4 linked regions of the Homo sapiens genome follow. Each later gene encodes a partner of the first gene's protein in a complex. Each region holds a gene or a part of one and is shown on either strand. Other genes may lie near its edges.

Region 1 (7,918 bases):
TTACAGGTGTGAGCCACCGCGCCTGGCCCCTATGATTATTATTTTTTTTTATTGTTTATTGTTTTGAGACGGGAGTCTCGCTCTGTCGCCCAGGCTAGAGTGCAGTGGCGCGATCTCGGCTCACTGCAACCTCCGCCTCCTGGGTTCAAGCAATTCTCCTGCCTCAGCCTCCTGAGTAGCTGGGATTACAGGTGCCCGCCACCACGCCCAGCTAATTTTTGTATTTTTAGTAGAGACGGGGTTTCACTATGTTGGTCAGGCTGGTCTCGAACCCCTGACCTTGTGATCCACCTGCTTCGGCCTCCCAAAGGGCTGGGATTACAGGCATGAGCCACTGTGCCTGGCCTGATTATTTTTAATAAGGACCATTTAGTCTCCTTCTTCCTTTATATTATACCTCTTCTTTCATTTTTTCTTATTTAACTTAGCTAGGACACACTCAAAAACGGTAAACAGCTACTATATCCCTGCCTCCTTATTGAGTTTCTGATTTTAAGGTGAAAGCCTCTGCCATTTCACTGAAATGTATGGTGTTGTTCTCTGATGATTATCTTGATCCAATTAAGGAAACATTCTTTTATTTCTAGTTTACTAAGAATTTAAAAAATTCAGGGTGGTTATTGAATGTTATACAATGTATCTCTAGAGACTATCATTTGGTTTTTCTCCTTCAATCTAATAAATTACACTAGTAGATTTCTTAATGTTAAATCACTGTTTCGGTTAAACCATATACTTTGTCATGATGTAAATTCTTTTTACTACCACATTGCTGGAATTTGATAACATCTTTTTTTTTTTTTTTTAAAGAGTCTCACTCTGTTGCCCAGGCTGGAGTGCGGTAGTATGACCTCGGCTCATTGCAAACTCTGCCTCCCGGGTTCAAGTGATTCTCCTGCCTCAGCCTCCTGGGTAGCTGGGACTACAGGCGCATGCCACCACGCCCGGCTAATTTTTGTATTTTTAGTAGAGACAGTGTTTCACCATGTTGGCCAGGCTAGTCTCAAACTCCTGACCTCAGGTGATCCACCTCCCTCAGCCCCGCAAAGTGCCAGGATTACAGGTGTGAGCCACTGCGCCCGGTCTGATAACTTCTTAATTCTTTTTATTTAAAAAAATTTTTTTTGTAGAGATGAAATCTCACTATGTTGCCCAGGCTGGTCTCAAACTCCTGGTCTCAACCCATCCTCCTGCCTCAGTCTTCCAAAGTCCTGCGATTACAGGTGTGAGCCACAGCACCAATAACAACTAAATACTCAATTTTGCCTTCATAACAAAATCATAGCAAGAAAGGAAGTTTCCCTTCTCTTTTTTGGGTACTGTTTGTCTTGGGTTTTAGTATAAGAGTTATGCTGCCTTGTGGAATAAACTGGGAAAGGGTCTCCTTTTTTTGAGATATTTTGGTCTCTCTAAAATCTAGCCAGTTTTGGGTACCCCATCTCATTCTTTTCTTCCTTCCAGTGGTGCCCCAACAGCACCATCAATCATTTTACCATGAGGATTTCTCACACTAGCTCTCAAGGTTCCTCATAAAGTGGGCTCACAATGCTGATCTCCAACAAAGCCTTTGTGTCATTCAACTTTATCACATTACTTACACATGTCACAGACCTTCCCATTTTCAAGGCTTTGCTAATTTCATGACATTTGCCTTGTTAAATCCTGACTATTAGTGTTTGGGCTGGTACTGGGTGTTGATTATGGCACAAGGGAACTAACATTTCAGGCAGAGACTGTGTACCTGCTTAACACCCTTCATTTTATTTAACCATCAGAATCCTGGGAAGTTTTGTTATTTTTATTTGCTGGATAGGAAAATAAACGTTATACAATATACACTAATAAACGGAGGTGCCATTAAATACCAGTACTGCTTGATTCCAAAGTGACTGCTGCCTCCCCTACACTGTTTCACCTCCTCCATTATGTTCCCGAGGTAGTCTCTCATGCTGACCTGTATGTCCTCCGTACTCCATTAGCAAATTATACACTGTATCGCACCATCTTACATTTACACTCTTGTATTTTCTATTTTCGTATATGTAGTGCTTGTCGCACTCACAGCAGTTGATAATAATCTCTCAGAATAATTTTTTTTTCCCCTCAGAATGATCTGTCAGCGTCTGTTCATCCGACTCCGTATTTGGATATCATATAAATCGCGGGAAAAAATAAAAGGTGATTAAATACAAATAATTTTGACTGTGTTAGTCTTAGCTGCGTGTTGCAAGAAATGCAAAACGTCTTTCAAAATAAGTTTAACTCTCAATGAATCTCCCTGTGGCTTTTTAGCGACACTGCAAAACTAGTGCCTAAAAACACAGTGACTTGGCATTTGTGACTACTGATCACCTCCTCACTCAAGCACATCAAACAGCGGGATATCCTGGAAGTCGCACCTACAACCCGGACTTCCTAACAAGGAAAGCTAGACGAAGGGACGGTCTCTCCCAACCGCAGCGCGATGCGGGTCCTCCCCCCATCAGCTTCAGTCCGATGGAACATTCCGTGCGATCGCTTTGACCGGGCGCCACTCGGCGTCACGTGGAACTGGAGCGCCCTGGCGGAGCCCGGCGGAATGACGCGGGCTTGGGTTGCCAAGGGGAGGGACGAGGCGCCGCGGAAGAGGCGGAGCGAAGGAAGCCGGCCGTGGGGCGGGGTGCGGAGCGCAGGGGCGGGCAGAGAGGGGCGCGCGGGCGGGGAGGGCCCAGCGTATTATGGGATGCGGCGGTGGAATGGGGCTGGGCGCGTGATTTTGAACAAACCCTGGTCTGTGTCTCGGAGGCGCCGCCGCCGCCGCTGCTGCTGGGAGCCCAGGGAGCGCCGCGCGACCAGGAGGCGGCGGCGCCGCCGGCTTTGGTGAGTGTCAGCCCCCGGGATGGGGGCTCCTGGGCGGGCTGGCGGGAAGGGGGAACCGGCCCCCGCTGCGAGTGCCTGCGCGGGCGGAGAGCGCTGGACCGCTCCCTCCGGGAGCCCGGGCCGGTGGGCCTTGGCGGGGAGCGGGAACCCGCCAGCGGGGTCCGCCGCGCCCCTTCCCTGAAGCTGGGTTGCGGGGGGCGAAGGATCCTTGGGGCTCGGTCTCTTCCCGTCGGCTCCCGAGAGGGTGGCTGTCACCCGGCAGGGCCAGCGCTCGGCCAGCCGCCTGCCCGGCGGTCTGGAGTAAGGGCTCCTGCGGCTGTTGACACGCACACTGCGCGACCCAACAAGCCACCCGTGGCGGCCCCAGGTTTCTGGGAACCGGTTTTGCTGCTGTGTCATTTTGTGCCAGTCCCTCCTCTCCCTACTGCCCGCCGCCGCGTTCTTCCTATGCCCCTTTGTACAGGCTCTTGTTCGTGCGTGTCCGTTTTCCTCGCGAAGCCCACCAGCCAAATGTCATAATGTTCCCGAGGTGCACGGGGGAAGGGAGCGGGCCGGGACTTAGCTTGGCCAGCAACGGTAAACAACCAAGCAGAGTGCGGATGGACGGGGCCGTCAGTGGGGAAATGAAGTTTAAAGATGAAGTAATTGAGAACACTTTATACTCTCAGCATCTGGTAGTCTGCATATAAAAACAGCAATTGGGGTGGGTGGTGGACAGCCCTTGTTGAAGGCTGAATCTACCGACTTTTATATGGAGTTGCCATTGAAACAAGGTAGGGAAATGAAATGACTTTTTCAACTTCAACTTCAACCTTACTCTTCCTACACTAACTTAGACAGTAGAGTGGCCCTGTTCGCAGCCTTGAAATTCAGTTTGCCCAGAGCTTATGTTGTGGTTGAATGATACAGAATTCAGCTTTTGGATGGTTAACTCTTTCTAAAATTGACAAAGGCAGCCAGTTTCCTTTTTTTTTTTTTTTAATGCTGATCTCTTCAGAAGCCTTGCAGCTTATGTTTTGTTATTTTTTAAATGATTAAGAATTACCTCTGTTCTCTTTTGGTTACTTATTCAACTGACTGATGACAAGAGCTGGTAACTCTTACCTACCTAGTAGGTAGCTCTAGGATCTTGTTCTGAAGCAAGCTGTTTATTTTTACTGTACAGAACAAATATATCAGCAGCAGATGGTTTTTTTTTAATTTGATGACTTAGATCCTAAAAAAACATTTGGCAAATAATTTTAGCTAAGAGTTATATTTTCAATATTTTAGAAATCGATCATTCATGAATGTTTCTACAATTAGTTCAATCATTTCAAATCTAGTTGCGCTTTGACGTCTTAAACCGATGACAGATTGGAAGTCGCAGTGTTCATGGACAGAAATGACCAGATAAATTAAGTTGGAGAGGAAGATAGCTCAGAACTTTATTTTTTTAAATTAGATATTTTGACCACTTCATCTGCATGAGGATTGCTGCCTGTAATTGACAAAGGTGTCAAAGGTCGAACATGCATATGGAAATAGCTCATCCTGTCAAAGTAGTTCTGCGGGTGGGGTAAAATGTCAAAGTTGGTGAATGACATTAAAGGTCTTTCACAGTGTTTTTAGTGCCTGAGATAGCCACAGTGAATGAAACGCATTCCACCATCTCTCTCAAGTTGCTGCTCTGAAAATGAAAGAGTTTGGGTTCTTTATTGTCCTTATGCCACCCTCCGCATGGCTTTTGGTCTTGCAAACAAAAATATGCCGGACTTGGGACCCCGCAGGTGGCGCGACTTCCTTTGGCGTCCCTGCGGGGGCCCGTGCTCCGCCCGGGGGTGAAAGGTCTCGGCGTAGCCCGTGTGCACTTGCACGGCCCTTGTGCGTTTGAAGGTTGGCGGGGCGGCGGGAGGCTTCCCCGGATATGTGGGTGTGCGCCTCCCGGGTGGGGCGGGCGGGGAGGGGAGGAGGAGGAAGGGGGAGGTTACTGGTGGTGGCGGCGGCGGCGGCGGCCCGGGCTCCGGCTGTCGGGGAAGCTGCTGAGCTGTGATGGTGATGACGAGGTGAAAATGGCGGATCTTTCGAAATACAATCCCGGCCCCTGACATACCAGAGGCGGCGGCGACGGCGACGTCGCCACCCCGGCTCCCTTCTCGGTCCCCGGGTACCCTGGAGCGCTCCAGTTTGGACAAACTGGGAAAGGAAGCTGCTGGCCAGAGCTATCGTGCACGGGCAAAACAAGCCCCGCCGGGGCTCGGGATTGCCCAGGACCTTCTGGAGCCCCTACCTCGGAGCCCGAGGGAGGAGAAAGCGGCAGCCGCTGGAGGTAGAGGAGGATGGGGTACCCGAGGGCTTCTCTGTCCGGAGATCTCTTTATTTGGGGGGATGGGGGTGGGTGGGGAAAGAATTGCGCGGTGGATCAAGGAATGACTTGTCCGGAGTGCGAAGAATCAGTAGCCTCGTCATGACATCAACATTATTCTTTGAGTGTTAAGAGGGCTCCAGTTTGCTCTTATACCTAAGGCTGCTGCTGAGGCCTAGAGGAACCGCTAGCACTTATCATGATTTCCTGATATAATGTTTAAAACAGCCACTCTGGCGGGTGTTGCTTTGATGGTGTTCAGCAGTTCTTGGGGTTGTACGTTTCTTTAGGGAGGCAGAGCATTGGCATTTTATCTGCATTTAAGATCTGTGTCTTAGATCCTAGTCTGTAACTTGTTGGGTTGTGGATGTTCACATTTTATAGAATAGGGACCAGTTTTGTAAGAATTAGAAAAAAAATTTTTAATGCTCTGTTATCCTTAGAGTAACTAACCTCTTTGCCCCTGCCATTTGGCATATAACAATTGAGATACTCTCAGTTATATTTTATACTCATGCTTTTCAGGGAAGTTCTTCTCTATACTCACCCTCCTGCCCCCGCCAACCTAGTTCATGAATTCAGAGAGTAAAGTTATGAAAAATTTTGCTGTAGATTTTATAATGCAAATGAAATACAGCTCTAGGAGCTCTCTTTTGGTCCTGAGTTTTACCTTCATTGTTAAGAAGGAGAGTTGCGATGGGGTGATGCAAGCATTTGTTGTGAGTACATTAAGTTGGGAAAAATAAATTGAGACCTCTGTTATTTCTAAATCACTAAATGCTGGAGTGATTAGCCTAGCCCTTTGTTTAGAGAGCTGGATTGATTGACTATAACAGCCACTGTTTTATTAGGTTATCTGAAGACCCATGTTAAGTTTTAGGTTATGCTGAAAGATCCGTAAGGAGTCTGTCTCCTTGCACACAACACTAGTGTTACAGAAAAGTTACATGTGAATCAAATTTTTAGGCTGGGCAAAAAAATTTTTATACATTAATTTGGACCCTATGCTTTTCCCCCAGCTTTTTTGGGTCAATGACATTGAGTGTATAATGAACAGAAGGATTAGTATTGAGGAATGCCCATGGGTAATGTTTATGATTAGCCCTAAATTTCCGTATTCAAATTGTCTACAGAGAGTATATGTGATATTATTTCCTTATTCAAATTGTCTACAAAGAGTATATGTAACACACTGTGCCATAGTGTGTCATATATCACAAATTTTGTAGTTTACTTAGAGGGGAAATATTTTGTGTGAATAGGTGTGTATAGTTTGTAGGTCTGGCTTTCACTTACTAGAAGAATAAGAGACCCAAAAAAATTTTTAGGAGAAATACCTTAGAGGTACTCAGAAGGTTTAATGATGACGATAATGATTATTTTTTAAAAATAATTTGTCTGATGCTGTATTATTCAGTAGGTATTTGGTTTTGTCTTTTTAAAATTACAGTTTTTATGTTGCAGTTATTTGACCCATGCCTTATAGCTGCTGACTCAGTAGTAAGACTAAGAATTTTAAAAATAATTAAAATAGGGAGATTAAAAAGCTTTTTCATTGGCTTTCTTTTAATCACAGAGGGCTATTGTCTCTTTGTGATTCTTTGTGATTGTCTTTAAAGACCAGTTTTCAGATTGTCCTGGTTAGAACAATTGTGTATTAATAATTAAAAGTGTGTTAGAAATGAAGCAAGAATTATACCACCAGAGATAGTCCAGTGTTCATTTTTTGGGGGAAGAGTATTATAGATTTTCACTACTTTTTCTTTATTTTTTTCCAAGGCAGAGTTTCACTCTGTCGCCCAGGCTAGAGTGCAGTGGCGCAGGCTAGAGTGCAGTGGCGCGATCTTGGCTCCCTGCAAGCTCCGCGTCCTGGGTTCACGCCATTCTCCTGCCTCAGCCCCCTGAGTAGCTGGGACTACAGGCGCCCGCCACCACGCCGGGCTAATTTTATTTGTATTTTTAGTAGAGACGGGGTTTCACCATGTTAGCCAGGAAGGTCTCCATCTCCTGACCTCGTGATCCACCCACCTCGGCCTCCCAAAGTGCTGGGATTACAGGCGTGAGCCACTGCGCCCGGCCGATTTTCACTACTTTTTCAAACATTATTATTGGGTGTCTATTAGGTGTCATATAGTATGCTAGGGATAGTGGATAAAATAACCTCAATATCATTACTTCAGGGAACTTTCAATTTAAGAATCACTGGAGGTGAAGTTGGAAGGATCAATTCAGTGGGGTCTTGCTGCAGAAGGCCTTAAGAGTTACAGAAAATGTAACTTAGTGTAGGATAATGACAATCTCAGAGATATACTTCAGAAGATAAATCTTGTACATGTAGCTTTTATGTAGAATGCATTGTAGGTAAGGGGAGATGGAGGTAAAAACACCATAGTAGGCTTCAGGAGTTGGAGATTTAGACACAATTGGTTACAGGAGGATAGAGTCATGGTGAAGGTGTAATCTGCATGATATATGACAGATTAATATTTCTATGGAAAGAGAGATGTCAAAGATAATACAATTGTAAGCCCTGGTGTTTGATAGAATTTTTTTTTTTTTAAATGAGATGGGTTCTCACTCTGTCACCCAGGTTAGGGTGCAGTGGATCTCAGCTCACTGCAACCTCCGCCTCCCAGGCTCAAGTGATAATCCCACCTTAGCCTGGTGAGTAGCTGGGACCACAGGCTTGGGCCCCCACGCTCGGTTAATTTTTTG
Region 2 (7,193 bases), on another chromosome or scaffold:
TTGTTTTTGTATTTTTAGTAGAGATGAGGTTTCACTGTGTTAGCCAGGATGGTCTCGATCTCCTGACCTTGTGATCCACCCGGCTTGGTCTCCCAAAGTGCTGGGACTACAGGCGTGAGCCACCGCGCCCAGCCTTGTTTTTTTAATTTGAAATGGAGTCTTGCTCTGTCGCCCAGGCTGGAGTGCAGTGGCGCTATCTCAGCTCACTGCAACCTCCACCTCCAAGGTTCAAGTGATTCTCCTGCCATGTACTGCTCTACATTTGTTTTGTTATAATTCTTTTTTGTTTAGTTCCCCCAGAATCTGTCATTACAAAGATTTTTGAAATTATATGAACAATGACAAACATTGACAGAAAAAGATCAGATTGTTTTATACTAACAATGATAATGTCTTGCTCAATTAAAAAATTAACCCCATTGATCTTCATTTAATTTTTATCATCTTATTTTATTTTTAGAACCAAAGTTGTTTAAAAACATTTTTTTTAGGCTGGACACGGTGGCTTACGTCTATAGTCCCAGCACTTAGGGAGGCCGAGGCGGGTGGATCACCTGAGGTCAGGAGTTTGAAACCATCCTGGCCAACATGGTGAAACCCTCTCCCTATTAAAAATATAAAAAATTAGCCAGGCGTGGTGGCGGGCGCCTGTAATCCCAGCTACTGGGGAGGCTGAGATCAGGCCATTGCACTCCAGCCGGGGCAACAAGAGCAAAACTCCGTCTCAAAAAATAAAAATAAAAAAAAATTTAAATTTAGCATCAACTAAAACCTATTTGCCATTTCTGAATAGGGCTTTAAACTTTGCTCCTCTTCTATTCTGGAAACACAGGAATAGCAAATAGACAATGACCACAAATAGTTTTGTCCCAGAAACAAAGAATATTAGCATGAATCCAAACTGGATAGCTAAATTTGTTTTGTTTCCTATCCAGCCAAATAATTCTATATGCTTGATACTAGAGTAAGTAAAAGATGTATCTGAGACCCATAGAGTAGCTGCAAGGTGAAAAAAATTAATATACAGTAGAGAAATAGGACAACATCTTGACCAGATGACAAAAATTAACATCACCAATGAGATGCAGATGGATAACACATGCCATCATCAGATGTGATATCCTCAGGAGACAAAATCACTTATACAGTTTTCCATCAGGGAATGACTAACCTGCATCTAATCAAAAGTTAATAGGAGACAAATCCAAAATTGGGAACCATCTATTAAAAGAGGGGATGAGGGTGGGCACAGTGGCTCACGCCTGTAATCCCAGCACTTTGGGAGGCTGAGGCAGGCGGATCACAAGGTCAGGAGTTTGAGACCAGCCTGGCTAATATGGTGAATCCACATCTCTACGAAAAATACAAAAATTAGCTGGGCGTGGTGGCACATGCCTGTAGTCCCAGCTACTCAGGAGGCTGAGGCAGGAGAATCGCTTGAACCCGGGAGGCGGAGGTTGCAACGAGTCCAGATTGCACCACTGCACTCCACCTGGGCAACAGAGTGAGACTCTGTCCCAAAAAAAAAAAAGGCTGAGGCAAGAGGACCACTTAAGGTCAGGACTTTGAGACAAGCTTGAGCAACATAGTAAGACCCTGTCTCTATAAAAAGATTTAAAAATATCAGTCAGGCATGGTGGCACATGATTGTAGTCTCAGCTACTTGGGAGGCTGAAGCAGGAGGATCATTTGAGCTGAGGAGTTTGAGGCTGCAGTGAGCTAAAAAGGTGCCACTGCACTCGAGGCCTGGGCAATACAGCAAGACTCGGCCTCTAAAAAAATTTTTTTTAATTAAAGAAAGGGACAAAGTGATTGTGGATTATATTCTTCAAAAATGGTAATGTCATAAAAGAAAAAGAAAGGCTGTGGAAATGTTCCTAATTACAGAAGAATAAATAGACATGATAAGCAAATGCAATACCTGATCCTTAATTAGAAATTGTACTTCCAGGAAAAAAAATGCCATAAAGAACATTATTGAATCAACTAACAAAACTAGAACAGAGTTAGCAGGTTAAATAAAATTATTTTATCAGTGTTAATTTTGCTGAAGTTGGTAGCTGTACTGTAGTTATTTAAAGAAATACACAGTGAAGTATTTTGGGGTAAAAGGCTACAAATGTATGCTACTTAGACTGAAATGGTTGAGGATAAAAAGAGAAAGATCTGGCTGGGAGTGCTGGCTCACGCCTGTAATCCCAGCATTTAGGGAGGCTGAGGCGGGTGGATCACCTGAGGTCGGGAGTTCGAGACCAGCCTGACCAAACATGGAGTAACTCCGTCTCTACTAAAAATACAAAATTAGCCAGGCGTGGTGGCACATGCCTGTAATCCCAGCTACTCGGGAGGCTGAGGCAGGAGAATCGCTTGAACCCAGGAGGCAGAGGTTGTGGTGAGCTGAGATTGCACCACTGCACTCTAGCCTGGGCAACAAGAGCAAAACTCCATCTCAAAAAAAAAAAAAAAAGAGAGAGAGAGAAAGATCTATATATTGAAGAAAGAAAAATCAAATGAGAAAGCAAATGGGATAAAATGTCAATAACAGGTGACTCTGAGTCAAGGGTATATGGGTATTGTCCTTTTCTTATTTTTGTAACTTCTCTGTAAGCCTAAAATTATTTCCAAATTTTAAAAAATTAATTTTAAAAAGTATAGCTAAAGATTCAACACAGAGGTTTCTAGCAGAATTTGAGAAAGGCAGAGAAAGAATATGAAAATTGGGAAAGGATTATCTATGTTATAACTTAGAATTAAATGAAGTCACACAGTGGCTCACGTCTATAATCCCATAGCACTTTGGGAGGTTGAGGTGGGTAGATCATTTGAGGTCAGGAGTTCGAGAACAGCCTGACCAACATGATGAAACCCCATCTCTACTAAAAAAAAAAAATACAAAAAATTAGCCGGGCTTGGTGGTGTGTGTCTGTAATCCCAGATACTCAGGAGGCTGAGGCATGAGAATCACTTGAACCCAGGAGGCAGAGATTGCAGTAAGCCAAGACTGTGCCACTGCACTCCAGCCTGGCTGGCACAGTGAGACTGCGTCTCAAAAATAAATAAATAAATAAATAAATAAAATAAAAATTAAATGAAGTCAAATGATCTCAAAACAAGAGAAAACTGATTCCAAAATTTAGAGCTTATATAACATTTAAAAACATCAAAGAGGTTTACCTTAATTTAGCTGAACGTAGTATTCTGGTAAGTGAAACACAGTTGCCTTCCATGATACCCTTTCCAACCGTGGGAATAATGCTTTTGCGGCATGCAACATATAATGAACATGCCAACCAGTGTGTAACTTCTCCCTGGCAAGCAAAAGACAAACAGCAAAACAGGTATAATATTATGTTAAAATGCTTTAATTCTAGAAACAAGAGATGTAGAATTATCTGGTCTCAATTTTCCTTATGTAGATAAAGGGCCAGAGAAGTGAAGATATTTGCCCAAGGTCACAAAGCTGTTAGTTGCAGTAATGGGTATAAAACTCCTTACTCTTAGTTCTGTGTTTTTACAACTATAACATGCTAAATTAATATTAATCTAAAGATAAAAGCCTGGCTTGGTGGCTCATGTTTGTAATCCCAGTAACTCGGGAGGCTGAGGTGCGAGTATCACTTGATGCCAGGAGTTTAAGACTAGCCAGGGCAACGTAGACTCTAAAAATGAAAATAAAAAAATTAGCCAGGCATGGTGGTGCTTGCCTGCAGTCCCAGCTACTTGGGTGGCTGAGGCAAGAGTATCGCTTAAGCTCAGGAGTTCAAGACTGCAGTGAGCTATGTTTGTGCCACTACATTCCAACATAGGCAGCTGAGCGAGATCCTGTCTCTTAAATCCTGTCTCTTAAAAAAAAAAAAAAGAAAAAAACTCTTTCACCTACACTCCAAATCTAATACAGGCATATGCCACATAACATCTTGGTCAACACTGGACCACATATACAATGGTGGTCACTTAAGATTATAATACTTGCCAGGCGCGGTGGCTCATGCCTGGGAGGCTGGAGCGGGTGAATCACTTGAGGCCAGGGGTTCAAGACCAGCCTGGCCAACATGGCAAAACTCCGTCTCTACTAAAAATGCAAAAAATTAGCTGGGTGTGGTGGCATGCACCTGTAGTCCCACCTACTTGGGAGGCTGAGGCAGGAGAATAGCTTAAACTCGGGAGGCAGAGGTTGCAGTGAGTAGAGATCGTGCCACTACAGTCTAGCCTGGGCAACACAGGGACACTCTGTCACACACACAAAAAAGATTGTAATACTGTATGTTCTAACTGTTCTATATATTTAAAAAATTATAATTTACTGTACCCCTTTTATGTTTAGATACACACATACTCACCATTATAGTTGCCTATAGTGTTCAGTACAGAAACATGCTGAACAAGTTTGCAGCCCAGGAGCAACAGGCTATATTAAACAGCCTAGGTGTATAGTAGACTACACTATCTAGGTTTGCATAAGTATACTCTGTGAAGTTCACACAACAAAATCACCTAATGTTGCATTTCTTAGACCATGTCCCTGTCATTAAGTGAAGCATGTCTGAATTACCAGAAGAGTTTTATTAAAATTTGTCAGCATGACTTTCTTGATTTTAAGAAATGGCCTTGATGATCCTGAAGTTTCTATCGTTTTTGCTTTATGTTTCTCTTTAGTGTGGCAGGGAAAGGCAAGAACAGAGTAAAAAGTTGGCAAGGGAGTCACACATAAAAAATTAATATTAATCTTACGCAACATGAAGGAGACTGTCATTTTTGTAAGGTAAACATTTGGGGATTTACCCCAAAACATGTCATCTTTAAAATACAGTCATATGCATTGCTTAATGACAGGGATATATTCTGAGAAATGCAACATTAGGCAATTTTGTTGTGCAAACATAGCATAGCCTACTAAACCTAGGCTATATGGTATGCTTATTGTTTCTAGGCTACAAACCTGTGGAGCATGTTACTATACTAAATACTGTTGGTAAATGTAACACAATAGTAATTATTTGTGTATCTAAACACAGAAAACATATAGTAAAAATAAAGTATGTGTGGTCCATCACTGACTGAAACATTCTGCAGCACACGACTGTAGTAAGCACGGCTCTTTATATTAGTAGATATCTCAATTTACAATGCCACAAAAAGGTGACATTTGGGAATTCAACAATTTTCTGCATTAGACTTCAGACATCTCCAAGCTAGAATCACTTCATGACTTCACTGCTGAAATACAATAGCTGAAGTTTAAGGATTAAGAATTACGGATAGGCCGGTGCGGTGGCTCACGTCTGTAATCCTAGCACTTTGGGAGGCCGAGATGGGTGGATCACCTGAGGTCAGGAGTTTGAGAGCAGCCTGGCCAATGTGGCGAAACCCCGTCTCTACTAAAAAATACAAAAATTAGCCAGGTGTGGTGGCGCACGCCTGTAATCCCAGCTACTTGGGAGGCTGAGGAAGGAGAATCACTTGAACCTAGGAGGTGGGGGTTGCAGTGAGCCGAGATCACGCCACTGCACTCCAGCCTGCGCAACGGGAGTGAGACTCCATCTCAAAAAAAAAAACAAGAATTACAGATAAAGGCCAGGCACAGTGGCTCATGCTCGTAACCCCAGCACTTTGGGAGGCTGAGGCAGAGGATTGCTTGAGCTCAGGAGTTCAAGATCAGCCTAGGAAACATAGTGAGACCCCCGTCTGTACAAAAAAGGAAAAAATTAGCCGGGTATGTGGCACGTCTGTAGTTAGAGCTACCTGGGGAACTGAGATGGGAGGATCATTTGAGTCCAGAAGGTTAAGGCTGCAGTGAGCTGTGACTGACCCACTGGACTCCAGCAAGGGTGAAAGAACGAGACTCTATCTCAAAAAAAAAAAAAAAAAGAATTACAGATGTAAATCTGATAGCACAACACAATAGTGTTCTTATACACTGTTCCACAGACTGTCTTTAAGACCAAACCCTAGAAGGATAAAAAGATTGATAAAAAGATTTCTTGCAATAATCTAAAAGGGGTGGGTAGAAATGGGTGGCCATCAATAAACCCAATGTTCCTACCCTGAAGGAATGAGAAGTCTTTTCTCAAAGCACTAAATGAGGCAGGTAAGCTTAAAGATGAATATTTTTACAAGCTTTGATTAATGAATTGCTTGGGAATAGGGTCTGGTCATGGTGGCTTACGCATGTAATTCCAGCACTTTGGGAAGCTGATGTGGGTGGACTGCTTGAGTTCAGGGGTTCGAGACTAGCTTGGGTAACACAGCAAAACCCTATCTCTACAAAATACAAAAAAATTAGCAGGACGTGGTGGTATGCGCCTGTAGTCCCAGCTACTCTGGAGGCTGAGATGGGAGAAGTGCCTGAGGCCCTTTTTTTGTCTCAAAAAAGAAAAAGAGAAAGAGTTGTTTGGGATTAGCATCCAAGTATTATAGAGCCTTTGGATACAGGCTACTAAATGAAAATTCTAGCAAGATGGTGAAAATATAAGTCCTAAAATTATTGTTTCGATTTTTTTAAAGACATTAAAGAATACACTGATTTTTATTTTACTTTTTAAAACAGGGTCTCACTCTGTTGCCCCAGGCTGGAGTGCAGTGGTACAATCAGGGCCACTGCAGTCTTGACTTCCCAGGAATGAGGGCCACTGCAGCCTCGACCTCCCAGGCTCAAGCAATCCCCCCACCTTAGCCTCTGGAGTAGCTGGGACTAAAGGCACATGCCACCACACCCAGCTAATTTTTGTAGAGATGGGGTTTCACCATATTGCCCAAGCTGGTCTCAAACTCCTGGGCTCAAGTGATCCACCTGCCTCAGCCTCCCAAAATGTCGGGATAACAGGTGTGAGCCACCATGCCCAGCCTATTTTATTTTGTGTAGAGATAGGGTCTCACTATGTTGCCCAGGCTGGTCTTGAACTTCTGGGCTCAAGTGATCCTCCTGCCTCAGCCTCCCAAAGTGCTGGGATTATAGGTGTGAGCCACTGTGCCTGGCCTGACTTTCTTTCCTTAAAAAAGTCAACTATTTTATTCCATGAGAATAAAATAGAATACAATTCTATTTGATAAAATCCTATTTCATAAAAATTCTATGAATTCTATGATATCAGAAACCATTTTTTGCATTTCTAAGGCCTACTTGCCAGGCCTTAGAAATACAAAAAATGTTTTCTGATCTCACAGAACTTCACATCTGGAGCTAAGAAGAGGAA
Region 3 (7,970 bases), on another chromosome or scaffold:
GGATGGAAGATGTCCTTTAGCTTCAATGTATTCATTACTGGTCTAAATGAAAATGAGAAGAACTGGAAATTCTTCCTTTTTTCACATTTACACATAGACTGTCTTACAAACCCACTTATATGTATCAATAGCATAGATGTTCTTTTGTAAAAAAAAAAAAAACAGCCAAGATCTGTGTATCACATATATCTCTGGGAGATGGTTTCATAATATTCTTGATTTATGATGTAAAAGCAAATTTAGATGCATAACTACTGCATTTCTCTACTATATCAATATCTCTTAGAAAGCATAAAGTTAAGTCGGTCACAGCATTATCCTCTGCTTCAATAAAGGGTTTAAAAGATAATCTATAATGTTCTATTTTGGCTCTAGAAAATTCACAACTACTTGGATGGTGGAGGGAGAAAAAAAAAAAGAAAAAAAATAGAAAGTTTACAACTATATCGTTCCTAAAAAGAAGAATTAGTCTTGTGAGAATTTTACAGTGCTTAGATGACAAAATGGAGCGCGAAGCTCTTTTAAATAATTTATGCAAAGAGTAGACTCTGTGCCTAGTTTATCTTTGGTCCTAAAAAATATATGTTGAAAATTCCATAATACTAAAAAAGTTATCCTCAAAATTAACATCTCATGGTCACATCTTCTAGGGTCAAATAGATCTGGTTTCAAATTCCGGCTCTGCCATACAGTAGCTATAACACAGTGGGGAAATTACTTAACAGTCTCAGAGGCTGCATTTTCTTGGCTGAGGACTGTGAGAATGAGTTACAGGTTAAAAATGCACAGAAAATACAAGAAATCAAGTTAAAATTCCATAACCAGTATTCTGTATTAAACATCATAAGAGCTTTATTTTCCCTTGCACTCCCATGAGAATGACATCCCATATTGTCACAGCGTACCTCACTGTAAGCCCCACAAGAGCAGGTTTGCTGCTCTATATCCAGCACCTAGAACAATGTGTAGCAAGTAATAGGTGCTCAAGAAATATTTGATGAATATTTTACTGAGTAAATCATTTACTGAATAAACTGGGCTAAGAAGCTGAAACTAAAGTCTCAGTAATCAAAAGAATTGAGTAATCAAACATGTTTTCAAAAATAATTTACTAACCAGCTATTACGTGATACTTGCTCATGTATCACTAGACTTCATACAACTTAACTGCTATGAGTTGAAATACCTCAAATAAATGGCGATAATGCTTGTTCTATCTGATTTACAGGATTATCTTGAGGGTAAAATAAGAGCTTGTTTGGAAGCCTTTAAGGCCATTTACCAAAAAAAAACCCAAAAAACAAAAAACAACATAAAAAGCCAACCAGTCCTTCTCTTTGCCAGACTACAGAAAGGCACTGAGAGATGAATAGGAACATAGCTTACTCAGCCAGATCATGTAAATATACAAAGAGCTTAGTAAACTTGAAAACACTGTCCATATGGGTGCTTTATGTGCCAGAAACTACATTATTGCCTTATTTAATCTTCAGAACAGCTCTGTGAGGTAAACACAAATATCTCCAGTTTAGAGATCACCATACTGAACTTTTCCAGCGGTTTCAGGTCTGTCGGGTTCTAAAGCCACCATACACTATCTTCTGCAGACCTAACAATTCAAAGAGGGAACTAGTAATTGAATTAAAATTCTATTAATGCAAATACAAATTAAAAATAACCTCACTCATCAGTACACATAGCCAAAAACATCATATTTAAATAATACCTTGGTTAGGCTTTGCATCCTGGACCTATTTGCCCGACTCTTTCTACAAATTAATTATAAAACGACTTGAGAAATCAAATGGCCTCAGGTTTAAATGCCACACACACAGTCAAACAGCTGATAAACAATCCGTACTTCCGTGTCACTTCCCATTGGCCCATGAAGGGGAGGTGCATACAAAGCTGACACTCACTGGCTAGAATGGCCATTTTTCTCATCTGCAAGCCCTGTCCGAAGGCTGCGACCTAACACACCCGGATCGCAACAACAACAGGAGTCCTGTGCAATGCCCGGGGTGACCAAAAAGCCCTCGAGGTAGCCACAGTCCTGATCCTAGTGACAAATGGGGGCATGTGTCTACATCCGGGTCGGCGGAGGGCTCATTTCATCTGGCCTGGGGGGAAATGAGTATTAATTTGTTTACACAGACGTAAACACAGCCCAAAACGCATCAGCACGTTGACTCAAACGCCCGCAACGCCAGGGCAAAGGCAATTTGGTTAACAGGGGGAAGCGAACAGACGGAGACGCCTGGAGACCCAGGTGCCACAACCCGGTTAATCGCGGTGCAAATAAGGGCAAGTCCCCTCCCCTTGTCCGTGTGGTCTTGACAACGACACTAGTTCATTCTACTAACAAGGCGGGCGGGGGGTCAGATGGGCCACACACACCCATTTTCCTCAACGGGACCCCAGCGCGATCTCAGCCTTGCTGTGCTACTTTAGGGCAAGACGCGTTCCCCATTCGGAAGCCGCAGGAAAGCGCGGCGAGAGCGGGTTAGCCCTCGGAGCGGCTAAGAGCCTCGGAATAGCGCAGAGGAAGTCCCCACCCCTCTCGGGGCTGGGAGCCCGCAACCCGCCCGAGAGTCTCTCGAGGCGCGCGACGCGGCTCGGAAGGCACCGGTTCACGCCAACTAGGCCGGAAGCGCCCCTCCGCCCGCGAGCGCACCTCCAGCGTGTAGCTTTCGCTCATGCTGCGGTAGCTGTCCCAGGCCTCGGCCCGCGCCGCCTCGTCCATGTTGAGGCGGCTGCACAGCTCGTCGAACCGCTGCTGGATCTGAGGGGTGGGCGACTCGGCAGGCGGCGCGGCGTCTTCCGCCTCGCCGTCGTCCTCCTCCTCCTCATCCGAGGCTGCCGCCGCCGGAGGGGGAGGCGGGGGCGGTGGCGACTGGTCACCTCCCGACGGCATAGCGCACCCCTGGGCGGCCGGACCTCAGGTGAGGTGAGGGCCCGGGCCCGCAGCCATTCAAACGGCGAAGCGCCCGCCCGTCCGCCGCCCGCACCGCGCCTGCGCCGCCGCAAACGACGCTGACCGCCTGCAGGCACCCGTAGTCTTGAGCACGGGCTGCTGGGAAACGTAGTCCAGGCCGGCGGTTCAAGGGGGCCAAAAATCATGTTTAAAAAAATTAGCTCCCCTAGTTTCACCAGGGGTGAAATAAAAGCACCTTCCCCGCATTTTAAACACGTACCTCCCCACCGTGAGAACATTCAACAGGGCTGTACTGACGAGAAAATGTCCAAAAGACACTGACGTGTGAAGGTTTCGTATCCAGGCTGTTCCCAGAAGTAAAACTTCCTCATCGCCTGGATATCCTTATCTAAAAAATAGGGATAATAGCAAGGGCCTGTCTCTGTACGTTCACGAAACTGCCTTTGCAAAAATCCTAACAGTGAGAAAGTTATGACAGTGCAAGGGATCTGACCTAAATGACTCCACGCTTCTCACTTCCGAGCTGCCCTTGTTCATTCCTGGGCGAAGACCTAACTAACTACAGGAGGAATTTAATTTCTAATTTCACTTTGAAACAAAGATTGTAACAGTCCTTTCCAAAAACAAACCCCATTCTTGCCTGGGGATCAGTCTGCCTTTGTAGAACTAACAAATTAGCCACAAGATTAGAAATTATGATTTAGGAGGCTTGCAGCCAGAGGCTATAAGATTCCTGACCTCCCCAATTGCTCTCAGGGATAACATCACTATTGTAAAACCTAAGATTGGTGCTGGAGATACTTTTCAGACCGCGCATTCCGATGCACTAGCTGGCGCCACTCAGACCATAATCTGGCTCAACAAGTTCTGCAATTCCACTCAGTAACAGAAGACAGCAAGAGCCCACTTCAACCCCCTGTGATTTCACCTCCCACCTGACAAATTAGCATTCGCCAATCCCTGGCCCCCTACCCGCCAAGTCATTCTTTAAAAACCCCAGTCTCCGAATTTTCTGGTAGGCTGATTTGAATAACCAAACTCCTGTCTGCCGTTCAGCTGGCTCTGCGTGAATTAAACTTTTTTTTTTTTTTTGAGACAGAGTCTGGCTCTGTTGCCCAGGCTGGAGTGTAGTGGCACGATCTCGGCTCACTGCAACCTCCGCCTCCTGGGTTCAAGCGATTCTCCTGCCTCAGCCTCCTGAGTATCTGGGATTACAGGTGTGCGCCACCGCACCCAGCTAATTTTTGTATTTTCAGTACAGGCAGGGTTTCACCATGTTGGCCAGGCTGGTCTCGAACTCCTGACCTCAAGTGATCCACCCACCTCGGCCTCCCAAAGTTCTGGGATTACAGGCGTGAGCCACCGTGCCCAGCCAATTCATTTTATTTCCAATTCTCCTTTCTTTATTTTAATTTTTTAAATTGCCAATCCTTGATTTATAAATGGGCTTGATATAAAACATTTTCCAGATTGAGGAGCAATCTGAGGATTGAGCAATTTGAGGATTCAGAAGGCATTACTGTTTTGCTATTTTTGTTTTGCTTGGTGGGATATGTAAACTGACAGAGGGAAAAGTGCTGGGACAAAAGTAGGGGCTTATGGAAGGTATAATGACAGGCGGGAGGACAGGAAATGGAACTCTGAAGATAGGAGAAAATCAGGTAGACAGGTAACAGGATATTTCAGGAACAATTTTGAGACAATGGAACCCTCTTAAGAAAACCTTAGTAAAATTCACAGTAATCAGCAATGCTTTTGGAGTTGGCTAAGTGATGAGTCTCAAGGTGACTATGGGGCAAGAACAGAAGTTGAACACAAATGGTTTAGAAGTATCTTAAGTATATAGGCTGGACGTTGTGGATCACACCTGTAAATCCAGCACTTTGGGAGGTCAAGGTGGGAGGACTGCTTGAGTACAGGAGTTCGAGACCAGCCTGGGCGACATAGTGAAACCCTGTCTCTACAAAAAATAGAAAAATTAACCCAGAGTGGTGGTACACGCCTGTAATCCTAGCTACTTGGGAGACTGAGGTGGGAGGAACGCCTAAGCCTGGGGAGTCTGCAGTGAACTGTGACCATGCCACTACAGCTTGGGCAACAGAGACCCTGTCTCAAAAAAATAATAATAAATAATTTGGCAAGGCGCGGTGGCTCACGCCTGTAATCCCTACACTTTGGGAGGCCAAGGCGGGCAGATCACTTAAGGTTAGGAGTTTAAGACCAGCCTGGCAAACATTGTGAAACCCCATTTCTACTAAAAATACAAAAAATTAGCCAGGAGTGGTGGCTGGTGCCAGTAATCCCAGCTACTCAGGAGGCTGAGGCAGGAGAATTGCTGGAACCCAGGAGGCAAAGACTGCAGTTAGCTGGGATCATGCCACTGCACTCCAGCCTGGGCGACAGAGCAACTCCATCTCAATAAATAAATAAATTAATAAATAATAAGTGTATTAAAATCTTAGTATTTTACCTGTATATACACTGGGAATATTGATTTTAAAATAATGATATTTCTTCCTTTGGAAATCATTATCAACACTTTACTATGTCAAAGCAAATAAAGAGGCCATGAGCCTGATATCATCTGTCTCTGTAGCTGGAGCTTATATGTAAGCAAACCAGAATTCAGTGTAAACAGTAAGACAACAGTAAAACAAAACATAAGCTTAACCAATCAGAAACTGCCAACTAGCCTCTAATTAGGGATTTTCCTTTTTTTTTTTTTTTTTTTTTTTTGGTGACAGAGTCTTGCCTTGTCACGCAGGCTGGAGTGCAATGATGCAATCTCGGCTTACTGCAACCTCTGCCTCCCAGGTTCAAGCGATTCTCCTGCCTCAGCCTCCAGAGTGGCTGGGATTACAGGAGCCAACCACCACACCGGCTAATTTTTGTATTTTTAGTAGAGACGGGGTTTAAGCACATTGGCCAGGCTGGTCTTGAACTCCTGACCTCAAATGATCCAACCACCTCGGCCTTCCAAAGTGCTGGGATTACAGGCATGAGCCACCGGGCCCAGCCCTCACACCCAAATAAGGCAAACACCCAGCTGTAGCCAATCAAGTAACTGTTTTACTTTTCTATTAAAGCTTACTGCTCACCTGCAGAAGCGCTCTGAATATCTTCTTGTTTTAAGTGGTGCCCAATTCATGAATTGTTGTTTGCTTAAACTGTTAACTTGTCCAAAGTTTTTCTTTTAGCAACTAAGAGAAAAACTTAAATTGTTTTAACAATTAAAGTTTAACTTCAAACTGTTTAACTTAAACAAACGATGTGAAATTATCTTTACTATTTTTAGTAAAAGTTAATGTAATTTAAATAATTATTGCAATGTAAGCAAAATTGGTGGCAATAAACCATCAAATATGTATTTATTAAAATATCCTTTGCTTGTTAATACCAATGTTTTCAAAGCCTTTTGGGATGGGGGTGGGGTGGAATGGGGGTGTGAGTGTTACCTGAAAGGAGTCCCGATCCAGACCCCAAGAGAGGGTTCTTGGATCTCATGTAAGAAAGAATTCAGGGCGAGTCCACAGTGCAAAGCAAAAGAAAGTTTATTAAGAAAGTAAAGTGATGAGAGAACAGTTACTCCATAGAGAGTAGGACGTTCCCGAAAGTAGGAGGAGGAATGCATCCACCCTAGGTACAATACTTGTTTATAAATAGGATTTAGAAAGATCATGAGGAGATGTGCTCTGCCACAAGGGTTTGTGATAAAGGATTAATCTTCCTAATTACTATATTTTGCAAGAATTGATATTATCTTTAAAGCAAAATTAGGAATGCTTCTGTTCTCAAGATATCGGGATATCAGGACACTCCTAAGTCTGGGTCTGTTTAGTAAATGTTATCAATGTGTTCCCTTAACTATAAACATCTAGGGGCTAGGAATACCTAACTTTCTAGGAATGCAGCCCAGCCAGTCCCAGCCCCATTTTTCCTAGCCATCACTCAAGATGGAGTCACTCTGGTTTGGATGCCTCTGATATGGAGAAGTTAAATTTCCTTGAGGTTATTATTTGACTTATGAAGCTTAGTCATAAAATGCAAGAGGTCTTTCACCTGACTGGCACATGTGCTCTCTCTGTCTCTCATTCTCTCAGTCATTCTTCATTCACTCTTTGTACCCAGCCAACATACTGTGGGAAAGACCAGGTCACCTATTGTCAAAGATAAACAAAGCCGAACATTAGTTAAAGTGTGAAAAACGGATTTTACTGAGTAACTACTGACAGACAGCAGGGAAAGAGCTGAGCTTCATTCCAACTTTTTTAGATGTGACTTGGCCTTTTAAAGAAAGAGTAAAGGAGGAGGGGGAGAGAGCAGAGCTTGAGTAAAAAATTACAAAAGGTGGGTCAATGTTAATGTCATTAGGCTAGTTGTGTCTACTAGCCAGCAACTATCAAAGTCAGGCTACTGTCCCCTACACAGACTGGAAGACAGAACCCCTATTCTTCCTGATGATTTCAATGGGAGGGTGGGGGCAGGGAGCCCAGGATCATTCCAGAGAATTGACCCTAAGCTCCCAGAAGCAATGCAAAAATTTGATCCTCTCTCTCTCTCTCTTTTCTTTTGCTCATGAGATATGGTCATCTCTTAAGTGCAGAGGTTTGGAAGGAGCCTTTATGTGCCAAGAATTCTGCAGTTATCACCATGTGGATAGGACCCAAGGCCTCTGGCCCTCAGCTGTGTTGAATAAGCCAGTTTGGAAGCCGAAGCAGATCCTCCAGCCTTCAGTCAAATTGTCCTAGCTGATGTTGTATACAACAGAGATGAACCTTCCCACTGAGCCCTGCCCAACTGAAATCTGTGGGACAAAAAAATGATGTTTGACATTAACGTTCCTTCAAAGAAAGAGATTTTAAGTCACAGCCATTTTTGATCGTGGAGGTTAACTGATTCTGTCTTAGTTCTTGAGCAAGATGCTAGGAGTTGAAATTGTAACTGTCCAGTGAGTTTTTCTGGCCTGCTGCCCAGACTGAGTAGATTTATCAAGATAGGGGAATTGCATTAGAGAAAGAGTTTAATACACTCACAG
Region 4 (7,193 bases), on another chromosome or scaffold:
TTTGTAAAAAAGATGTTTATATAGAGGCATAGAAAACTGGGATGAATATACAAGCTGGTTATTTTTATTTTCTTCTAGTGGCTCATCAGCATTTTCTCATTTTTTCCATAAGAAATGTACGTTACTTATATAAATGATTTATCAAGATGAATGAGTGCCGGGTGCAGTGGCTCACATCTGTAATCCCAGCACATTGGGAGGCCAAAGTGGGAGGATCACCTGAGGTCAGGAGTTCAAGACCAGCCTGGCCAACATGATGAAAACCCATCTCTATTAAAAATACAAAAATTAGCCAGGTGTGGTGATGCATGCCTGCAGTCCCAGCTACTCAGGAGGCTGAGGCACAAGAATCACTTGACCCAGGAGGCAGAGGTTGCAGTGAGCCAAGATATTGTGCCACTGCACTCCAGCCTGGGCGACAAACCGAGACTCAGTCTCAAAAAAAAAAAAAAAAAAGGCAGGGGGGAGAGAAATGAGTTTAATATTGGGAGAAAAAGAATAATGGAATAATTTTTAAGAATCACAAAAGACAAACAAACTGGGGTGTTCTGGAAGACAAATTGTCTTCTCAAGCTAGAAGGATTTAATTTGGTAAATCACCAATCCAAAGCACAATATAGTAGCTTTAAAGACTAAAAGTACTTTGAGAATATTTAGCTTGGTTCCAAATTTATTGACCTACCAGAATCTTAATCAAGAGGTAAAATTTTAAAGAAACTATGTTAAAAAGGTTAGTCTAATGTACCTGCCAAAAGAAATAGTGAGACCAAGGAACATGTCAAACTTTTTCTTAGAATGAGAAAAGTACTATTATTCTTTTATTTTTATTTCAAGACATTATTACTTAGAAAGCAAGATTCTTTTTTTTTTTTTTTGGAATTTGAGACAGAGTCTTACTCTGTCACCCAGACTCCCAGACTGGAGTGTGGTGGCGCGATCTTGGCTTACGGCAATCTCTGCCTCCCAGGTTCAAACAATTCTCCTGCCTCAGCCTCTCAAGTAGCTGGGATTATAGGCACCTGCCACCACTCCCGGATAATTTTGTATTTTTAGTAGAGATGGGGTTTCACCTTGTTAGCCAGGCTAATCACGAACTCCTGAGCTCAAGTGGTCCGCCTGCCTCAGCCTCCCAAAGTGCCGGGATTACAGGCGTGAGCCACCGTGCCCAGTGAAAGCAAGACTCTTAAAAATAAGCTATTACGGGCCAGGTGTGGTGGCTCATGCCTGTAATCTCAGCACTTTGCAAAGCTGAGGCAGCAGGATCCCTTGAGCCCAGGAGTTCGAGACCAGCCTGGGCAACAAAGTGAGGCCTCCTCTCTACAAAAAATAAAGAAATTAGCTGGGCATGGTAGCATGTGCCTGTGGTCCCAGCTACATGGGAAGCTGAGGCAAGAGGATCACTTGAGCCCAGGAGGTCGAGGCTACAGTGAACTGTAATCACATCACCACACTCTAGCCTGTGTGACAAAGCGAGACCCTGTCTCAAAAAATAAATAAACAAAAAATCTGCTGGGCACAGTGGCTCACGCCTGTAATCCCAGCACTTTGGGAGGCCAAGGTGGGCAGATCACTTGAGGCCAGGAGTTTGAGGCCAGCCTGGCCAACATGGTGAAATCCCGTCTCTACTGAAATTACAAAAATTAGCCAGGCATGGTGGCACATGCCTGTAATCCCAGCTACTCAGGGGGCTGAGGCAGGAGAATCGCTTGAGCCTGGGACGCAGAGGTTGCAGTGAGCCAAGATTGCACCGTTGTACTCCAGCCTGGGCAACAGAGAGAGACTGTCTCAAAAACAAACAAACAAACAATTATGCTAACATATAGGTCAGCACAGTCGTTTAACAAATGCTTTTAATCTAAATATTTATGGAATGTTTAATTAGAAAGGTTTTTAATCAATAATTTTAGAAATTTTTAAAAATAATTTCTAACAACTGAGGATCAATTCTCCTATAAAAGCATATTAATTTAAGGTTATCAGTGAAAACCAATACTGAAAAGCTACAATGAATCATAACTTAGAAGGAAAATGGAAACACTATATCCAGATTAATTTAACAAATTAGACTTTTAGCTATGGTATACCTAAAAATGCTATACTTCTTACCTTTTAAACTGACAAGGGCTTTTGCTGAAGAGCCTGCAATTAAAAATAAAACAAATCAATAATTATTTCATAACCAAAGTGAGAGAAAAAGACCTTGGTTTGGGGGTAAAAGTGATCCATTTAGTTTTAGTAATGTTGAGTTTGAAGAGATGGTGGAATGTGCAATTCGAAATATCTGGCAGACAATTCAAACTATAAACCAGAACTCAGATAAAGAAAGAACTGGAGAGAGACATATGAGAGTCTTGCTGAAGTTGTGAGAACTGGAGACCATTCCAGGAGAAGAAAGTGAAGAAACAGAAGAAAGAGGAAGAGTGGGGACAGAGGTAATTTTGGATCCTCATCCAGGCGTGCTGTGGTGCTGGAAGAAAAGAGAAAGGGAACCGACATCCATTGAGGCAAAGACTGATGTAGTAATGGAGTGGAAAAAAACAGGCAATGGAAATGATTCAGGGACTGTCAGAGCAAGCAATAAGTCCCTTGAAAGTCTAGAATGCAGGTATATGTGATACTTCAAGATCTAAGCTGGAAAAGGGAATACAGAATGGCCAAGAGGGGCTAGAATAAAGTTGGAGGGGTCCACTGGATAAAACAAACTCCAGTGTACATTAGAGGCCAGGTATGATGGCTGACACCTGTAATCCCAGTGCTTTGGAAGGCCAAGGTGGGAAGGCTAGCTTGAGGCCAGGAGTCTGAGACCAGCCTGGGCAACATAAGGAGATCCTGTCTCTAAAAAAATGTTTTTAATTCACTGGGTATGGGGGCACGTGCCTAAAGTGTCAGCTACTCAGGGGGCTGATGTGAGAGGCCTGCTGGAGCCTGGGAGGTTGAGGCGGCAGTGAGCTGTGACCGTGCCACTGCACTTCAGCCTGACAGACAGAGTACGACTCTGCCTCAAAAAAATAAAAAAGACATTAGAATAACAAGGAAGCTCCTCATACATGCAAAATCTAGACTGAATCTATATTATTAATAAACAACAGGGGATTCTGTTGCAGGTAACCCACTTTGAGAAACATCAGGCTACAGGTTCTGGTGTGAATGAATTATAGGATCTATGGGTAGGGAAAGTAGAAAAATCAATAGAGAGGCCGGGTGCGGTGGCTCACGCCTGTAATCCCAGCACTTTGGGAGGCCGAGGTGGGCGGATCACAAGGTCAGGAGATCAAGACCATCTTGGCTAACACGGTGAAAACCCGTCTCTACTAAAAACACAAAAAATTAACTGGGTGTGGTGGCGAGCACCTGTAGTCCCAGCTACTCGGGAGGCTGAGGTGGGAGAATGGCGTGAGCCCACAAGGCAGAGCTTGCAGTGAGCAAAGATTGCGCCACTGCACTCCATCCAGCCTGGGTGACAGAGTGAGACTCCATGTCCAAAAAAAAAAAAAAAACAAACCAATAGAGAAAGAAGCTTTTTGAGAGTGAGAAAGCACTAAATTTAAAAATCTCAGAATTGGATGTATACATTGCAAAGTCCAAGTCATCTGAAAAATAATAATTAAGGATGATCTCAGGGGATTAAATAAAAAAGAACATGAACTAGGAACAAAAATCAGAGAGGACGGATTAATCCTCCTTGCTATTTAACAAAAGCAGCTATGATTTACATCTCATATAAATGGATAACAGACTTAAAATGAGAAGCAACAGATAAAGTATGGCAGTTATGAAACACTTCATCTCAGATCCTTAAACACTATGCATCTCTGATCACTAAACCTCAACTGACTTTTTCCTCCACAGGTCTGTGTAAGAGACTTGTGAAACAGACACCTATTAGCATTAAAGACACTTACTTTCACTCTACTCTCTTGCCCAGATGTGAAGAATAGTTAACAGGACACCATAAAAGCTTCTGCATGGCAAATGAAGCTTAATGACAAAAGGCAGTAAAGTCATGGGGGTGAATGACATAAAATCTTGCTAAAAAGTCTCAAACAATGAAACACAACTGTAAAGCAGCAATAGTAGACAATACACACATCTGTGTACCAAAAGATATGCAGTGCATTTGAGAAAAAGTAGTAACCATTCACTCACTGAATATGTAGAGTACTGATGGCATGCCAGTCCCTACCTGCTCTAGGCAATGGGAATACAACAGCAAGCAAAATAGTCAAAGTCCCTGCTCTCATGGAATGTACATTCTAGTGATGGGAGGCAAACAAAAACAGCTATCGAGTAATGATAAGCACTCTGGAAAAAATAAAGCAGAAGAAGAAGAATACGCAGGGTGGGGATGGAGGGAAGGAAAACTATTTGTATATAAGGTGTTCATGATGAGCTTCTATGAAAGGTGATGCTTAAGCAGAGATCTGAAGGAAGAGGTATATAGGCCATAAGAATATCCACTCCTGCTCCACGAAGGCAGGAACCATATCTTGGGGATTCTGACCAATCACCTTTAACCTTTTTTTTCTTTTTCGTTTTCTTTTTTCTTTTTCTTTTTTTGAAATGGAGTCTCACTCTGTCACCCAGGTTGGAGTGCGGTGGCGCAATCTCAGCTCACTGCAACCTCCACCTCCCGGGTTCAAGAAATTCTCCCCACCTCAGCCTTCCAGGTAGCTAGGATTACAGGTGCATGCCACCATACGCAGCTAATTTTTGTATTTTTAGTAGAGACAGGGTTTCGCCATGTTGGCCAGGCTGGTCTCGAACTCCTGACCTCAGGTGACCACCCGGCTCGGCCTCCCAAAGTGCTGGGATTATAGGCGTGAGCCACCGCAACCGGTCCTTCTTTCCTTTTTCTAGATGCAGGATAGCATAGTGGTTAAGAAAACAGGTTCTAGATTGAGACTAGCTATGTTTGAATCTTGGTCCTGACACTTTCTTGCATGCTACCTTAAGCAAGTTACTTTGCCTCTCTGTGCTATTGTTTCTTCATGTGTAAAATGAGGATTAAATGAGTTAATACATGTAAAAGTGCATAGAACAATGCATATATTACACAGTTAATTTTGATATAATGCTGTTAGTATTATTTTGAGCAATCAAAAAATAATAGGTTAAGAACATGGATTTTTCAGTCAGGCGAATCTGATTAAATTAGAATCTTGCTCTAACGAGGTGTTCATTAATCCAAAGATTCTACCCTTCTTAGTTCATAAGCATGATGATTGGGTTTTCATACTCATGTGTGAGATGTGTCTCTCTCAAACTTTGTGAAAAGTCAGCACATGACCCATCTGATGTGGAAAAAAAAATTTTATTGAATGCCTACCATAAGCACTGTTAGGGGCGAGGGTTACCCCAAAGAACAAGACAAACAAAGCCTCTCCTCACAGGAAGCTTAAACTCTAGTGGAAAGAGACATATATATATAAAACACGTACATAATAATTATAGCTCATGATAAAGGAAATAAACAGGGTGATATTGGTGGGGACGGGGGAATTACTCTAAGTACTAGCTACCTTACTTTTGAGTACAGACGGTTTCTCTGAGGAGGTAACATCTAAAAAACTAGCTGTGAGAGAGCAGGAAATCAAAGCAATGAGTCTGGGCAGAAGAAACAGGTTAAGTCCTAAGAAGGGAGGAGGGGTGACTGTGCTTGCATAGGGAAGAATGGTATGAAAGGGCAGAGGTAAGCCAGGTGTTATGCATGGAACTGGGAATGCAATTAAGACAGTACCTGCTCTGATGGGGCTACTAACCAATCACATAAACAAATACAAAACTGCAACTGTAATAGCTGCCACTAGGAAGTTACATAGTAATACAAAAAGATTTAAAGAATATGGGCCTGGCCTGGCACAGTGGCTCACACCTGTAATCCCAGCACTTTGGGGGGCTAAATGACTTGAGGGCAGGAGTTCGAGACCAGCCAGGTTCTACTAAAAATACAAAAGTTAGCCGGGCTTGGTGGCACACATCTGTAATCACAGCTACTCAGGAGGCTAAGGCAGGAGAATTGCTTGAACTCTAGAGGCGGAGGTTGCAGTGAGCAAAGACTGCACCGCTGCACTCCAGCCTGGGTGACAGAGCAAGACTCCATCTTTAAAAAAAAATAAAGATAGGCCCTGCATGGTGGCTGAAGCCTGTAATCTCAGCACTTTGGAAGGCTAAGGCAGGAGCATCGCTTGAGGCCAGGAGTTTGAGACCAGCCTGAGCAACATAGGGAGACCTCGTCTCTACAAAAAAAAGAAAAAAAAAAAAAAAAAAAAAAAAAACCTTAGTTGGGCATGGTGGTACATGCCTGCGGTCCCAGCTACTGGGGAGACTGATGCCGGAGGATCTCCTTAGCCCAGAAGATCAAGGCTGCAGTGAGCCACGATCATGCCTCTGCACTCCAGTCTACACAACAGAGGGAGACCCTGTCTCTTTAAAAAACAAAAAACAGATTTAAAGAAGACATAATTTAGTCAGGGAGGATGGGAAATGGCTCTCTGAAGAAGCATAAAATGGGATCTAAAAGACAATTAGAAGTTAACTGAAAGTAAGGGGGGTGTGGGGGGGTAGCATTCCAGGTTGAGAGAACAGCATGTGCAAAGACCCTGGAGAAAAGGGGAGACTGGCGAGTATCGGGAATGAAAAAGGTCCAATTTACCCCAAGGGATAGAATGAGGGGACAAGTGGTAAAACATAAAGCTGAGAGGTAGGGAGCAGCCAGACCACAAAGGGTCTTATAGCTACTAAAGGGTTTGTAACAGGAGGATGACATACATTCGTTTTGAAAGGATCCCTCTCGCTGTGTGTTTGTGGGAAGGGGGCTGAATTAATGAGAGGCTGAGGTAATTGGTAAAGAGAAGAAATGGTAACAGTTTGGGCTATGCTGATGGTAAGAAATGGGTAGAATTGATAGATATTTAGAAGGTAAAATTTACAGACTTAGTAAAGGCTTAAATATGGGAAGTGAAAGGGAGGAAAGTGGCTGGGGGCGCGGTGGCTCACCCCTGTAATCCCAGCACTTTGGGAGGTTGAGGCGGGTGCATCACCTGAGGTCAGGAGTTTGAGACCAGCCTAGCCAACATGGTGAAACCCCGCCTCTACTAAAAATACAAGAATTAGCCAGGTGTGGTGGCGGGCGCCTGTAAACCCAGCTACTCAGGAGGCCGAGGCAGGAGAATGGCTTGAACCCGGGAGGCGGA

Evidence for each region.
Region 2: LIN54 (region 1) and RBL1 share a complex: the UniProt entries of both Homo sapiens proteins name them as parts of the DREAM complex.
Region 3: LIN54 (region 1) and RBL2 share a complex: the UniProt entries of both Homo sapiens proteins name them as parts of the DREAM complex.
Region 4: LIN54 (region 1) and LIN9 share a complex: the UniProt entries of both Homo sapiens proteins name them as parts of the DREAM complex.

The regions. Positions count from the first base shown.
Region 1 is NC_000004.12:83,007,733-83,015,650, reverse strand, and holds the start of LIN54 (protein lin-54 homolog), read left to right. Parts: upstream 1-4,827; 5' UTR 4,828-5,167; intron 5,168-7,918. UniProt on the Homo sapiens protein: Component of the DREAM complex, a multiprotein complex that can both act as a transcription activator or repressor depending on the context. In G0 phase, the complex binds to more than 800 promoters and is required for repression of E2F target genes.
Region 2 is NC_000020.11:37,085,815-37,093,007, forward strand, and holds part of RBL1 (retinoblastoma-like protein 1), read right to left. Parts: intron 3,309-7,193; coding exon 3,175-3,308; intron 1-3,174. UniProt on the Homo sapiens protein: Key regulator of entry into cell division. Directly involved in heterochromatin formation by maintaining overall chromatin structure and, in particular, that of constitutive heterochromatin by stabilizing histone methylation.
Region 3 is NC_000016.10:53,429,501-53,437,470, reverse strand, and holds the start of RBL2 (retinoblastoma-like protein 2), read right to left. Parts: upstream 3,001-7,970; 5' UTR 2,915-3,000; coding exon 2,675-2,914; intron 1,853-2,674; exon of another isoform or gene 1,745-1,852; coding exon of another isoform or gene 1,727-1,744; intron 1-1,726. UniProt on the Homo sapiens protein: Key regulator of entry into cell division. Directly involved in heterochromatin formation by maintaining overall chromatin structure and, in particular, that of constitutive heterochromatin by stabilizing histone methylation.
Region 4 is NC_000001.11:226,299,067-226,306,259, forward strand, and holds part of LIN9 (protein lin-9 homolog), read right to left. Parts: intron 5,298-7,193; exon of another isoform or gene 5,196-5,297; intron 2,140-5,195; coding exon 2,107-2,139; intron 1-2,106. UniProt on the Homo sapiens protein: Acts as a tumor suppressor. Inhibits DNA synthesis. Its ability to inhibit oncogenic transformation is mediated through its association with RB1. Plays a role in the expression of genes required for the G1/S transition.